4 separate regions of the Homo sapiens genome follow, and regions 1, 3 and 4 are each reported to be linked to region 2. Evidence: microRNA targets listed by miRTarBase, many of them from high-throughput screens and not tested one by one. Region 2 holds a microRNA gene; each other region holds the end of a gene's coding sequence.
Evidence for each region. Region 2 holds the annotated microRNA hsa-miR-193a-3p (AACUGGCCUACAAAGUCCCAGU, at 1,987-2,008, shown strand). A microRNA usually pairs through its seed, bases 2 to 8, with sites in the 3' UTR of a target mRNA and lowers its output. Matches are read on the target gene's strand: a 7mer-m8 pairs with bases 2 to 8, a 7mer-A1 pairs with bases 2 to 7 and ends in A, and an 8mer does both.

Region 1 (3,131 bases), not on the chromosome of region 2:
GAAGATTTCCTTTGAGCAAGGGGTTTAAGGAGTATGAAAACCATCGTTGGTTATTCCAAATCTGAACTTCATAGGATCAAACAAGATGAGTATGTTAGCTCTGTCTGGCTCAAACCATCCTTTAGTAAACATACCATTCTCAACAAAATTCAGGCTTTTTGGAACACTGACTATGGTTAGGTTTACGCCATGGTGGTAGCTTGTAGAGTGGTGTTGGAAGCTCGATCCAGATGCTGGTTTCTGTAGGTACCTTCTGCCCAATCACCAATCTTCATGTAGAAACAACCTAGAAATAATCACCCAGAGGCAAGTGCATGTCAAAACTGAGAAATTCGGATGCAGAATTTCAAATTTTCAGTTCTAAAATGTCAACTCAATTAAACATGCTATACTAAAAGAAGAGCCAAGTAGAGAATATCCCTAGGTAAAGCTTAAGAAGAGGAAATGGCTAGAAACCATGAAATTACTACATAAAAAACAAAACAAAACAAAAAAAAACACAAGGTAAGTTTCCCATGTCTTTGATTACTTGTTATCTCAGTACATGAAATGCACGATTTTGCTAATGGTTAAAACTTCACTAATTCTATCTATGCCTACCAGTATTTCTTATTATTTCTAATAAGCATCTAAAACTGACAATTCTTTATTGAAATCAAGAAAACAAAAAATAGAAACCATAAATTTAGTAGCTAAAAGAGACAGTATGCTACCATGAATTGTTTGTCATATGCATTTAACTCAGTGACTACTTTTGGGACCAAAATATACCCAAGTTAATACAGGAATTTAGTTTACACATCAATAGAGATAAAATAAATTCCAGAATTGTTATCTATTCTTTCCACAAGAAAAATCTATTTCTTCCTAATCATACTAACTATAATTGCTAATGTCTTTATTTTTAAATAATCAAAAACCAAAAAGCCAAACAACAACAACAAAAACCTCAAACACATGAAAATCATGACCAAACCAAACTTAAATACTTTTCAGCTACTAGGGAAAAGCAATACAAGTAATTGAGCTAAAGGAAGTTATCCTTTATGAATTCCAAATTTAGAGAAGATATGTTGTATTCCCATAATAACTAACTATAAATACAAAGAAGGAAGAGAATACATTATTAAAACTTTGAGCCCAATTCTATTTAAGTTGGGAGTTTATTAGCAGAAATTCTAATGAATATAATAACTGGAAATATAATTTGGGGCTATAAAAAGCTCTGTACCAAAGTTAACTTTCATCTTATTCTATAATCACATTTAGTCTGAAAGCTTAGGCTAAGGGCTTAAAGGGTTCTCATTGTATAACTTATGATTTTTCTATAAAATATCACTTTAAGTAAAATAAATTAGTAAGGTTTGGCCTGTACAGTATCTATGACATTTCAAAATCTCACCGAATGTTGATTCTAGGCAGTAACTTAAGAAAGTAAAAATCCTTAAAAATTCCAAAATGATAGGAAAATCAGGCTGGATGCATTTCAACTGCGGTGAAAAGGTTAATGGGATTTTAAACTATGAAGTCTACTTTTCCCCTACAGACCCAGTATTTATTTCCTTAAGACTATTTTGGAGCCAATCAACATCATAAATAAAAGATTATTATTCCCACCTTTATGATTTAATGAATCAATAATGTTTTCCTAGCCAAGAACACAGGTAACCTACATAACGTCAGACATCTAAAGCTAGTACAGAAATCATCTAAAGGCTTTGAAATATTTGACCTGATGGCTTTAAGCATTTGTAAATTAATGGCTTTTGGGAGGAAGGAAGAACTAAGGCACTCAAAGATACCACAACATCTTACAATCTATAATGAAAGGAAAAAACTACTAATACTAGTTCTTGAAACTCACAAGTTATAATGTAGAACAAATGTCATTTTAGTTGATTTTCAATGTTTATACATGTGATATAAATTACATGTATGACAACACTAATCCAAAAGAAAATAATGATGTACAAAATGTTTATGATAAGTAAAATTATTGCATTTAATGTCATTTTCATGAAATGAAAATCATCAAATTCCTTAATGTTGTATCAAACGTAAACAATACCAGTTCAAATTAGAGGGAATGTATGTCAACACCAACTTTTGACAAAAATAAGAAAGCTAAAGCCCTACAATTTATCTAATTTAGGTCAGGTAACCATGGAAACAAAAGAATATTAAAATTATTTATTTTATCATTATGCACATTGAAGGAAATCATAACAGACAGTACAGTTCTTTTCCACCATAAAATTATATACACCCATTTATTTAGCTAGAAACACTAGCTTGAGAGGTACTGATATATTCCATTTGTGATACTTTCTGTACAGCAAACAAATGTCTTATATTTGGAGCATGTTGAAGAAAACATTGTCTCAAGTCTTTTTTGTTTTTTTGAGTCTCAATCACTAAGAGTTCAAGGTACTTTGGGAGAATCGTGGTGTCCTGGATGGCCTGATCAATGTATTAAAATCAAGCAGTATGTCTTCTTAAAATACTCTTAAATCCATACAAATGTTGCTTGGGTTGTGGAGCTGAGATTTCTCCTACTGGCATGATAAAATTTGAACATGTGTTATGAAAGTTTCACACCAATTTTGTTTTGTTCCTTCTTCATTAGCCGTTGTGCTTCCTTTTCCATTTTCTTCCTTTGTTGTTCGGCTGCTCTCTTTTCTCTGTCTGCTAGTTTCTGCTGTCTGAAAAGAAACATACTTTTACTTTTAGAAAATACCAAACAGGTAAAATGGCAAATAAATTCTAGAAAGAAATAGCAGTGCCTTTTTATTATCACCAAATAAAATGTTGAAAGTCTTAAAATTTTCTCACTAATTTGAAAATTCCAAATATTTTCAAAAACAGGATTTCTCTTAGTCCTTAGAACGTGACTTGTGAAATAGAAGAAATATTATCTCTATTTTACAAATAAGTAAAATGAGGCATAAAGGCTAAGTGACTTGCCCGAAGTCATAGGATTAAGTACAGGGATAAGAACTCACATCTTCTGACACTTCTTATTTAGATTATCTCCATTTTGTAAAACAATACTTCCATTGAACCACATCTTTTTCTGGGGATACCATTCAGAAAAGCTTGATATTGAGCTTGATAATCTCCTGTTATTATAG
Region 2 (3,131 bases):
AAGACAGAGTCTCACTATGTTCCCAGGCTGGTCTCAAACTCCTGGGCTCAAGCAATCCTGCCTTGGCCTCCCAAAGTGCTGGGATTACAGGTGTGCGCCACCGTGCCCAGCCTCATAGTGAGATTTAAAGGCATGATCTGGGTTGGTGAGGCCAGGAAAGAGAAGGCAGGAACATAGCTAATATCTATGTCGGGACACAAACAGATATGTCACGTTATTTTCTTTAAATGGCTCCAAATCTCGACCTGAAGAGGTTGGGAAACTCAACCTCAGTGGTTATTTGGGCTTCCCCATCACCCACGGTGCCTGGAATCCTGGCCATCTTGAGGCTGGGGATCTTGGTAGAGGCCTGGTTCAGGTCCCAGAGGAGACACGCAGTTACTCTCCCACATCCTGGCGTCTCCGGAGAGACAGTGGGGCAGCAGGTCTCCACCAAGGGGATTCCACTGACCTCCCACCCCTCGCTAATCTTGGGACAGCTCTTACTCAGCCTCAAAGCTTTTCTGTCCCACTCCTTTTCCACAGTCTCCCTAAAGGAACTCAGCTTTTCAAACAGCACAGCCAGGAAGAGAGGTTGTCTGCAGGCCGCTGGAACTGGGAGTTGAAAGCACGAAATTTTAACATCTCAAGAAAGTATGCTGCCCGGTACTATGCTTGGCACTTTAATTTATAATCTTTGCCACCAAAGCCCTGCCAGAAGTGCCCGGCGGCTCCAGGTTCTAGATGGGGAAGTTGAGGCCGGCGGCAGGCGCGCTCCACCGGGCGGGGGCGCGGCCCGGGAGCGGAGCGGCCGGCAGGGGGCTCCCCGCGCCGGTCTCCGCGGGAGGAAGCGCTGGCAGCTGCTCGGACGGGTCAAAGGAGGAAAAGGGAAAATTACTGGGCTCCGGGGCGGGAAGGACTGCGTGACTGGGAGGAAGGCACTCCAGACTGTCGAGTAGGGCCGCCCGCGTCGGGACCCCATCCCCGGGGCAGTGCGGGCCACCCGGGACCTGGGAACCCGGGCCACCCCCCACCGCCGTCAGGGTCTCTCCCGCCGGTGCCGCAGGCTGGAGCGGGCGTCGCGGCCGGGGGCGGTGCCGCCTAGGGGCGGGCGAAGGGCGGGCCGGGGCGGGGCGCCGTCCGCTCGGCTCCGGGAGGCGGTGCGGGCGGGCGCTGGCCGCGTCCGCCCGCCGGGAGCCGCGGGGCGCGCAGCCTTCCTGATGTGTCACCAGCACGTGGAGCCAGGTCGGGCCGCGGCGAGCAAGCCGACCCCCCCAACTTTCGAGGGGTCTCGCCGCCCCGCTCCTCTCCCGGCTTCGTCGGGCTCGCTCTCCTAGCGGAGGGGGCGGCGGCGGCCCCCAGGTCCCGGGCAGGTCGAGCGAGGCCACGGCCCCCGGCCAGGAGTTCGAGGGGCTCCCGGAACGTCGGGGCGCGGGCCCCGGCTAGCGGCTATGGCCCCCGTGCCCAGGCAGCGGTGCGGGCTCGGCCTTGCGGGAGGGTGCGGCCTGCTGCGAGAGGTCGGCCACGGCTCCTGCCCCGCGCCCCGCGCCCCTCGCCCGCCGAGCTGAGCGCAGGTAACCGAGGCAGAGCGGAGCTGGGCCTCGCAGGCGCGGCGTGGGAGCGTGGCGAAGTTTCTCGGCGCATAACTCTTGCGCCCCACTCGGGAGTGGGGCTGCGGTGGGGAGGCTTTGGTCCCCGCACCTCCCCCTCCCCCAGCGCTGTCCCTCGGCCTGAGCCGAGGCGGCCCGGGGGTGGCGTGGAGGCCGCCGAGCGTCGTGTAACCCTTGGAGGGCTGGGTTTGGAGCCCGCGACCCGAGGTCGGGCGGGGCGGTGGACTTTCCCGGGGAACGCCGCCTGAGGGACACCCAGAGCTTCGGCGGAGCGGAGCGCGGTGCACAGAGCCGGCGACCGGACCCAGCCCCGGGAAGCCCGTCGGGGACGCACCCCGAACTCCGAGGATGGGAGCTGAGGGCTGGGTCTTTGCGGGCGAGATGAGGGTGTCGGATCAACTGGCCTACAAAGTCCCAGTTCTCGGCCCCCGGGACCAGCGTCTTCTCCCCGGTCCTCGCCCCAGGCCGGCTTCCTCCCGGGCTGGCGTGCGCTCCGGCCAGGCTGCCTCTCAGGTCCACGCTGGAGAAGGAGTGGTGAGGTGCGCTCGCCCCGGCTGCGTGCGGTGATTCGGGAAATCCCCGCACTTCGCTGGAGAAATAGCGACGCTCTCGGAAGTGTGAGTCGGTCACTGCTTGGGGTCCGTACCCTTTGGGCAGACGTGGACCGCGCCCCGGCGACCTGGGTTGAGTGGACAGACGGGACCCGGCTTACCCATGGGCCAAGCCCTGCCACTTACCGAGGCCTGCCCTGCTGTGCTTTCCAGGGCGGCAACCTTGAGCTTGGGGGTGGGGAGAACGGGGCCTGACTTCTAGAATTGCCCCTGGGGAGGTGGGAAGCGGAGGTTTGGCCCGGTGGCGCAGGAAGCCCCTGTTCCTCTCCCAAACACCATTTCATTAAAGATGGATCTTTGTGGATGTGTTCCCAATGGCCGGTCTTTTGTTCCCTGACCGATGCAACATAATGTGGACCCACTCTAGTCCTCTTCAAGTTTTTTGCTGGAATTCCTTAAACTCTCCTTTAAAGTCTCTTATCTATTCCTCTAGTGCGTTTGCTTCTACTCCCCGAAAACAAAAACCCACCAACCCCTGAAACCTCGGGTTTGCCTGGTGTTGGAACTTTGGTTATTTGTCCTTTGTTTGTGTTGTGTTTTTGGCTCTTGGCCGTGGAAAAACATCTGGGGACATGCAGTGAGGTGACTTGAACTGTGTGAAGAACTGGTTGACAAAATAGGGAACGTCTGGTCCCTGTCTTACTTGGCTTTGGAAAACAGGAGAGGTTTTTAGGAGCTGGGAGGAGGGAGGGTGAGAGGGAGGAACCATCACGGCCAGGTTGGCCCACCCCTTGCCAGGTCGTGTAAAAACCCATTCAAGAGGCATTTTCCCACAGGCTCCCTGCCTCTGCAGGCCACGTGTAGAGTAGTCCTTTGCAGGCGTCCTGCCCATACTGTTGTCCCTGTTTTGGGGGCATGTGGGAGCCAACACAGGGGAGTCAGGTGTGTGGTAGGCAGTCAGGTGTGTTTTGGGGTCAGGGAGGCAGGTTTG
Region 3 (3,131 bases), not on the chromosome of region 2:
ATAAAATAAAGTTCTCCTTTTTCTTCAGCCTTCCTGGTCTGCCTGGGATTAATGAACTTGGCCACTCTTGGGACTCCTCCCCTTGCTAGCCTGCAGGTTCACCTCTCCCAAGAGTCCAGGGTCTGTATCGCCCCTTTCCTTCTCCCCTTAACTGATTTATCTTGCTTTGGGATAATACCACCCCCTCCCTCCCCACGACCAGACAAGCCATGTGTGCCCCGCCCTCTCCTAAGCAATTTACAGGAATGAACTCCTGACTCTCCAAACAACTGTATGGGACAGGCACCCCCCCATCTTCCAGAGAACAGCATGCAGGCTCAGAGAGGTGAAGTGACTTGCCCATGGTCACACTGCTGGGGAGGTGGAGAAGCCAGGATGTAGGCTGGCTTAACTGTGCTGCTATTCTGCCTCATGGCATTTAGTTTGAAGAGAAGGGGCTTCAGGACAATACTAACCTAGGTGCACAGGTTGTCCTTCCCGTTGCTAAGGAGCCCTAGGCAAGTCAGTTAATCTCAGAGTCTGTTTCATCGGCAAAATGGGCCTGAATTTCTTCCTGATTCACTGGGTAGTTTGTACAGATGAAATGTGATCACAGCTGCCAATAAACCTGGTCCCACAGTGACGTGGACAGCAGCCTCCTGCAGCACCACTGCTCCGCCCGGGCTATGAGAAGATGGGCACTGGCAGGGAGGGTGGCAGGCAGTCCCAACAGCTGGGGCTCCAGGCTGATAGCAGTGGCTGAGAGGGAGTCATCCCAGATCTCAGGCTATCCCACCCATCTCATCCCAGAGGGCACCATATGTCTCTCCACCACATAGTCACCTGTCTCCCTGACTGTGTTCCACTGTCACTAGAACAAGAGGATCTGGGCCTGCCAAGCTCCAAAGACAGCTCATCGTGAGGAGGAAAAGTGACTTTACAAAAGCAATGTGTGGTGGCTGTTAAACTGCTGCATCTTCTATCCGCCTTCACACCATTCTCACGCACATACACATGCGCACACACATGCCTACATGCACACACATAGGCATGGGCGCACACACAGGCATGCGCACACATGCGTACATGCACGCACACAGGCACGCACACACACAGGCATGCATACACACATGCGCGCACACACACATGCGCGCACACACACACACTTGCTGCAGGGGATCCCACCACCAAAGTCCATCCTCCACCCGCCTCAAGGGAGCCAAAGTCTGTTCAGAAAACAAACTCCAACACGTCTAAAAGAAAATAACAAAAAAACCAAACTTTACTTGCATTTAGCCATTAATAAATAATTTACAGTATGTACACGCGGTGACACTCCACACAGGTCGCAGACACGTGGACGCAGTGAGGGGTCCCCACTTCCAAGCAGAACGTGAGCAAACACAACCAAAATAAAGTGCTTCACTTTTTACTTCCAACATAGGGACCAACTAAAACCAGCAGGGAGAGGGAGGGGCCGGGCCCCGAGCGCCCTCCCACCCGCCCACACACGGTTCTGGCAGAGGGAGCAGGACCTCTTGGAGGGAGGGGGAGACACACGTTCTGCAGCCTCCTGGCCAGTGTATGAGAGGTCCCTGGGGAACAGCAGAGGGGCTGCCGATGGGTGGGTAGGGTGTGGAGCTGTAGGGCTGCTGGCAGGATCACCCTCCAGGGCCTGGCTGCACTTTTGGGAGTGAAGCCTGGCTTTGTGCTGTGGGCACAGCAGCACAGGTGGGACTGTTCTGGGCCCCTGGATGAGCACCCTGGGCTGAAATGAGGCGGGAGCCAGCGGCAAGTCTCTCCTGGCTGTGTGGCCACAGGGCTTAAGGGAAGAGATTAGAGGTTGAAGACCCTGCCAGGGATGCTCAGAGCTGAGAGTCCTAAGACCCTGCTCCTCTCCCCAGACTCCAGACGTGGATGGACCGGGCTGGGGGCTCTTGGGGTTGTGAGGAGGAAGCAGAGGATCAGGGCAGGCCAGCTGGCCCCATCCACTGGGTCTCCTGCCACACCCTGGGGCCCAGGCACCCCTGCCCAGGAGCTCTTGCATCTGCAGGAGAGAGAGGAACAGAAGTCAAGGATCTCTTCTCTGTTTAGACATTTAGAACCAAGCACTTCGACTTTCTAAGCACAGGGTGGAAGGGGCAGGGGCCCAGGCCAGAGACGGGCAGCTGAGCAGGTGCCTGAAAACCGGGACCTGCACTGGTACCCACAGCAGCCAGGTGAACATGGGCAGGGAGGCCACAGGCCAGAAGGCACCAGGCGGGCACGACCTACTGGCCAAAAGGTTCCAGCAGTCTGCTAAGGTGCCAAGCAGCGCCCCGGGGTTGCCCTGCCTGGGGCCAAGCCCCAAGGATGCCTCCCTGTGTGGCTGGGGTGTCCCCGCTGGCCTAGGGGGATCGAGTGTGCTCTCGTGTAAGAGTGTGTGCGTGCGTGTGGCGGGCACAGGGGGCCCCACGGATCGGCGAGCAGCAGTCGGCCGGGCCTTTCAGTGCATTGCGAGGGGGAAGGAGCTGACTCTGACGGTTCCCAGTGTGTCTCTGGTGGGGGTGGGGGGCTTCAGCCTGAGGGGATGTTTCACACATTCACACTGCAGGGGCGGGGCGAGGGGAGCTGCTCTCCCTCTCACACAGCTCTACTGTCAAACATCATGGCACCAGTCACCACAACCTTGTCACGTGCACTAGAAGGGGAGGGGTCCGTGCCTGAGCCCTTGGCAGCAGGCGGTCCCTGGCGTTCTGCGGGGCCATGGTGGACACGCCAGGAGATCTGCACCCCGTGGGCGGTCCCAGCCCACACATGGGGAAGCCGAGAGGACGGAGCCCGCGCCTCCCTCCACATCTACGCGTCTAGCAGAACACAGGGAGCAGGGCCAGGAGCGGGACGAGGGCGCCCAGGAGGGGCCGGGGGGCCAGGGGCAGCCCCGCAGCCGCCCTGCCTGGCAGGTCCCGAGTCCTCTCATACAGGTGCAGTTTGTCTTTGTTGGAGTGGAGCATCTTGACATCCTCCAACGCGTAGTAGGCGGCCAGTGTGAAGTTCACGTCGCCCGTGGTGAGGAGGTCGAAGACGCAGGCCTGGTAGTACAGGTCCTCCACCGGCAGCTTCTCCTTGCACTTGGCCACGGCTGTCTCGTATGGGAAGGTCTCGGGGGCTGT
Region 4 (3,128 bases), not on the chromosome of region 2:
TTAGGAAATTAGCAACCAAAAATAATTTTAAATTGCCTACTCAGTGCTGTGACTGCTAACAATGTGGAATTCTTTTTAAAAACGAATTGCGTTCATTTTCCGTCTTTCCCTATGTTGTCTCTCCTCTCCTGTGTCCTTTCAGGTCCTGAGCTTATATAATACCATAAATCCAGAAGCATCTGCTTCTCCTTGCTGCGTGTCCCAAGATTTAGAACCTCTAACCATTCTCTACTACATTGGCAAAACACCCAAGATTGAACAGCTTTCTAATATGATTGTAAAGTCTTGCAAATGCAGCTAAAATTCTTGGAAAAGTGGCAAGACCAAAATGACAATGATGATGATAATGATGATGACGACGACAACGATGATGCTTGTAACAAGAAAACATAAGAGAGCCTTGGTTCATCAGTGTTAAAAAATTTTTGAAAAGGCGGTACTAGTTCAGACACTTTGGAAGTTTGTGTTCTGTTTGTTAAAACTGGCATCTGACACAAAAAAAGTTGAAGGCCTTATTCTACATTTCACCTACTTTGTAAGTGAGAGAGACAAGAAGCAAATTTTTTTTAAAGAAAAAAATAAACACTGGAAGAATTTATTAGTGTTAATTATGTGAACAACGACAACAACAACAACAACAACAAACAGGAAAATCCCATTAAGTGGAGTTGCTGTACGTACCGTTCCTATCCCGCGCCTCACTTGATTTTTCTGTATTGCTATGCAATAGGCACCCTTCCCATTCTTACTCTTAGAGTTAACAGTGAGTTATTTATTGTGTGTTACTATATAATGAACGTTTCATTGCCCTTGGAAAATAAAACAGGTGTATAAAGTGGAGACCAAATACTTTGCCAGAAACTCATGGATGGCTTAAGGAACTTGAACTCAAACGAGCCAGAAAAAAAGAGGTCATATTAATGGGATGAAAACCCAAGTGAGTTATTATATGACCGAGAAAGTCTGCATTAAGATAAAGACCCTGAAAACACATGTTATGTATCAGCTGCCTAAGGAAGCTTCTTGTAAGGTCCAAAAACTAAAAAGACTGTTAATAAAAGAAACTTTCAGTCAGAATAAGTCTGTAAGTTTTTTTTTTTCTTTTTAATTGTAAATGGTTCTTTGTCAGTTTAGTAAACCAGTGAAATGTTGAAATGTTTTGACATGTACTGGTCAAACTTCAGACCTTAAAATATTGCTGTATAGCTATGCTATAGGTTTTTTCCTTTGTTTTGGTATATGTAACCATACCTATATTATTAAAATAGATGGATATAGAAGCCAGCATAATTGAAAACACATCTGCAGATCTCTTTTGCAAACTATTAAATCAAAACATTAACTACTTTATGTGTAATGTGTAAATTTTTACCATATTTTTTATATTCTGTAATAATGTCAACTATGATTTAGATTGACTTAAATTTGGGCTCTTTTTAATGATCACTCACAAATGTATGTTTCTTTTAGCTGGCCAGTACTTTTGAGTAAAGCCCCTATAGTTTGACTTGCACTACAAATGCATTTTTTTTTTAATAACATTTGCCCTACTTGTGCTTTGTGTTTCTTTCATTATTATGACATAAGCTACCTGGGTCCACTTGTCTTTTCTTTTTTTTGTTTCACAGAAAAGATGGGTTCGAGTTCAGTGGTCTTCATCTTCCAAGCATCATTACTAACCAAGTCAGACGTTAACAAATTTTTATGTTAGGAAAAGGAGGAATGTTATAGATACATAGAAAATTGAAGTAAAATGTTTTCATTTTAGCAAGGATTTAGGGTTCTAACTAAAACTCAGAATCTTTATTGAGTTAAGAAAAGTTTCTCTACCTTGGTTTAATCAATATTTTTGTAAAATCCTATTGTTATTACAAAGAGGACACTTCATAGGAAACATCTTTTTCTTTAGTCAGGTTTTTAATATTCAGGGGGAAATTGAAAGATATATATTTTAGTCGATTTTTCAAAAGGGGAAAAAAGTCCAGGTCAGCATAAGTCATTTTGTGTATTTCACTGAAGTTATAAGGTTTTTATAAATGTTCTTTGAAGGGGAAAAGGCACAAGCCAATTTTTCCTATGATCAAAAAATTCTTTCTTTCCTCTGAGTGAGAGTTATCTATATCTGAGGCTAAAGTTTACCTTGCTTTAATAAATAATTTGCCACATCATTGCAGAAGAGGTATCCTCATGCTGGGGTTAATAGAATATGTCAGTTTATCACTTGTCGCTTATTTAGCTTTAAAATAAAAATTAATAGGCAAAGCAATGGAATATTTGCAGTTTCACCTAAAGAGCAGCATAAGGAGGCGGGAATCCAAAGTGAAGTTGTTTGATATGGTCTACTTCTTTTTTGGAATTTCCTGACCATTAATTAAAGAATTGGATTTGCAAGTTTGAAAACTGGAAAAGCAAGAGATGGGATGCCATAATAGTAAACAGCCCTTGTGTTGGATGTAACCCAATCCCAGATTTGAGTGTGTGTTGATTATTTTTTTGTCTTCCACTTTTCTATTATGTGTAAATCACTTTTATTTCTGCAGACATTTTCCTCTCAGATAGGATGACATTTTGTTTTGTATTATTTTGTCTTTCCTCATGAATGCACTGATAATATTTTAAATGCTCTATTTTAAGATCTCTTGAATCTGTTTTTTTTTTTTTTAATTTGGGGGTTCTGTAAGGTCTTTATTTCCCATAAGTAAATATTGCCATGGGAGGGGGGTGGAGGTGGCAAGGAAGGGGTGAAGTGCTAGTATGCAAGTGGGCAGCAATTATTTTTGTGTTAATCAGCAGTACAATTTGATCGTTGGCATGGTTAAAAAATGGAATATAAGATTAGCTGTTTTGTATTTTGATGACCAATTACGCTGTATTTTAACACGATGTATGTCTGTTTTTGTGGTGCTCTAGTGGTAAATAAATTATTTCGATGATATGTGGATGTCTTTTTCCTATCAGTACCATCATCGAGTCTAGAAAACACCTGTGATGCAATAAGACTATCTCAAGCTGGAAAAGTCATACCACCTTTCCGATTGCCCTCTGTGCTTTCTCCCTTAAGGACAGTCACTTCAGAAGTCATGCTTTAAAGCACAAGAGTCAGGCCATATCCATCAAGGATAGAAGAA

Region 1: miRTarBase lists EBAG9 as a target of hsa-miR-193a-3p. Seed matches in the 3' UTR shown: 7mer-A1 at 2,554-2,560.
Region 3: miRTarBase lists RGMA as a target of hsa-miR-193a-3p. Seed matches in the 3' UTR shown: 8mer at 2,251-2,258.
Region 4: miRTarBase lists TGFB2 as a target of hsa-miR-193a-3p. Seed matches in the 3' UTR shown: 8mer at 1,473-1,480.

What each region holds. Positions count from the first base shown.
Region 1 is chr8:109,564,010-109,567,140 of GRCh38, reverse strand. It overlaps EBAG9 (estrogen receptor binding site associated antigen 9), which reads right to left. Exons shown (of 7, transcript NM_004215.5): 7 at 1,145-2,702. The coding sequence ends at 2,582. Among named protein-coding and RNA genes, the nearest start is that of EBAG9, 25 kb to the right of the region's middle.
Region 2 is chr17:31,558,064-31,561,194 of GRCh38, forward strand. It overlaps MIR193A (microRNA 193a), which reads left to right and starts at 1,933; the gene lies at 1,933-2,020. RefSeq lists a silencer at 715-1,204 and an enhancer at 946-1,736.
Region 3 is chr15:93,042,173-93,045,303 of GRCh38, forward strand. It overlaps RGMA (repulsive guidance molecule BMP co-receptor a), which reads right to left. Exons shown (of 4, transcript NM_020211.3): 4 at 1-3,131. The coding sequence ends at 2,826. Among named protein-coding and RNA genes, the nearest start is that of RGMA, 45 kb to the right of the region's middle.
Region 4 is chr1:218,441,062-218,444,189 of GRCh38, forward strand. TGFB2 (transforming growth factor beta 2) reads left to right here. Exons shown (of 7, transcript NM_003238.6): 7 at 143-3,128. The coding sequence ends at 301. It overlaps TGFB2-OT1 (TGFB2 overlapping transcript 1), which reads left to right and starts at 1,565. Exons shown (of 1, transcript NR_125715.1): 1 at 1,565-2,934.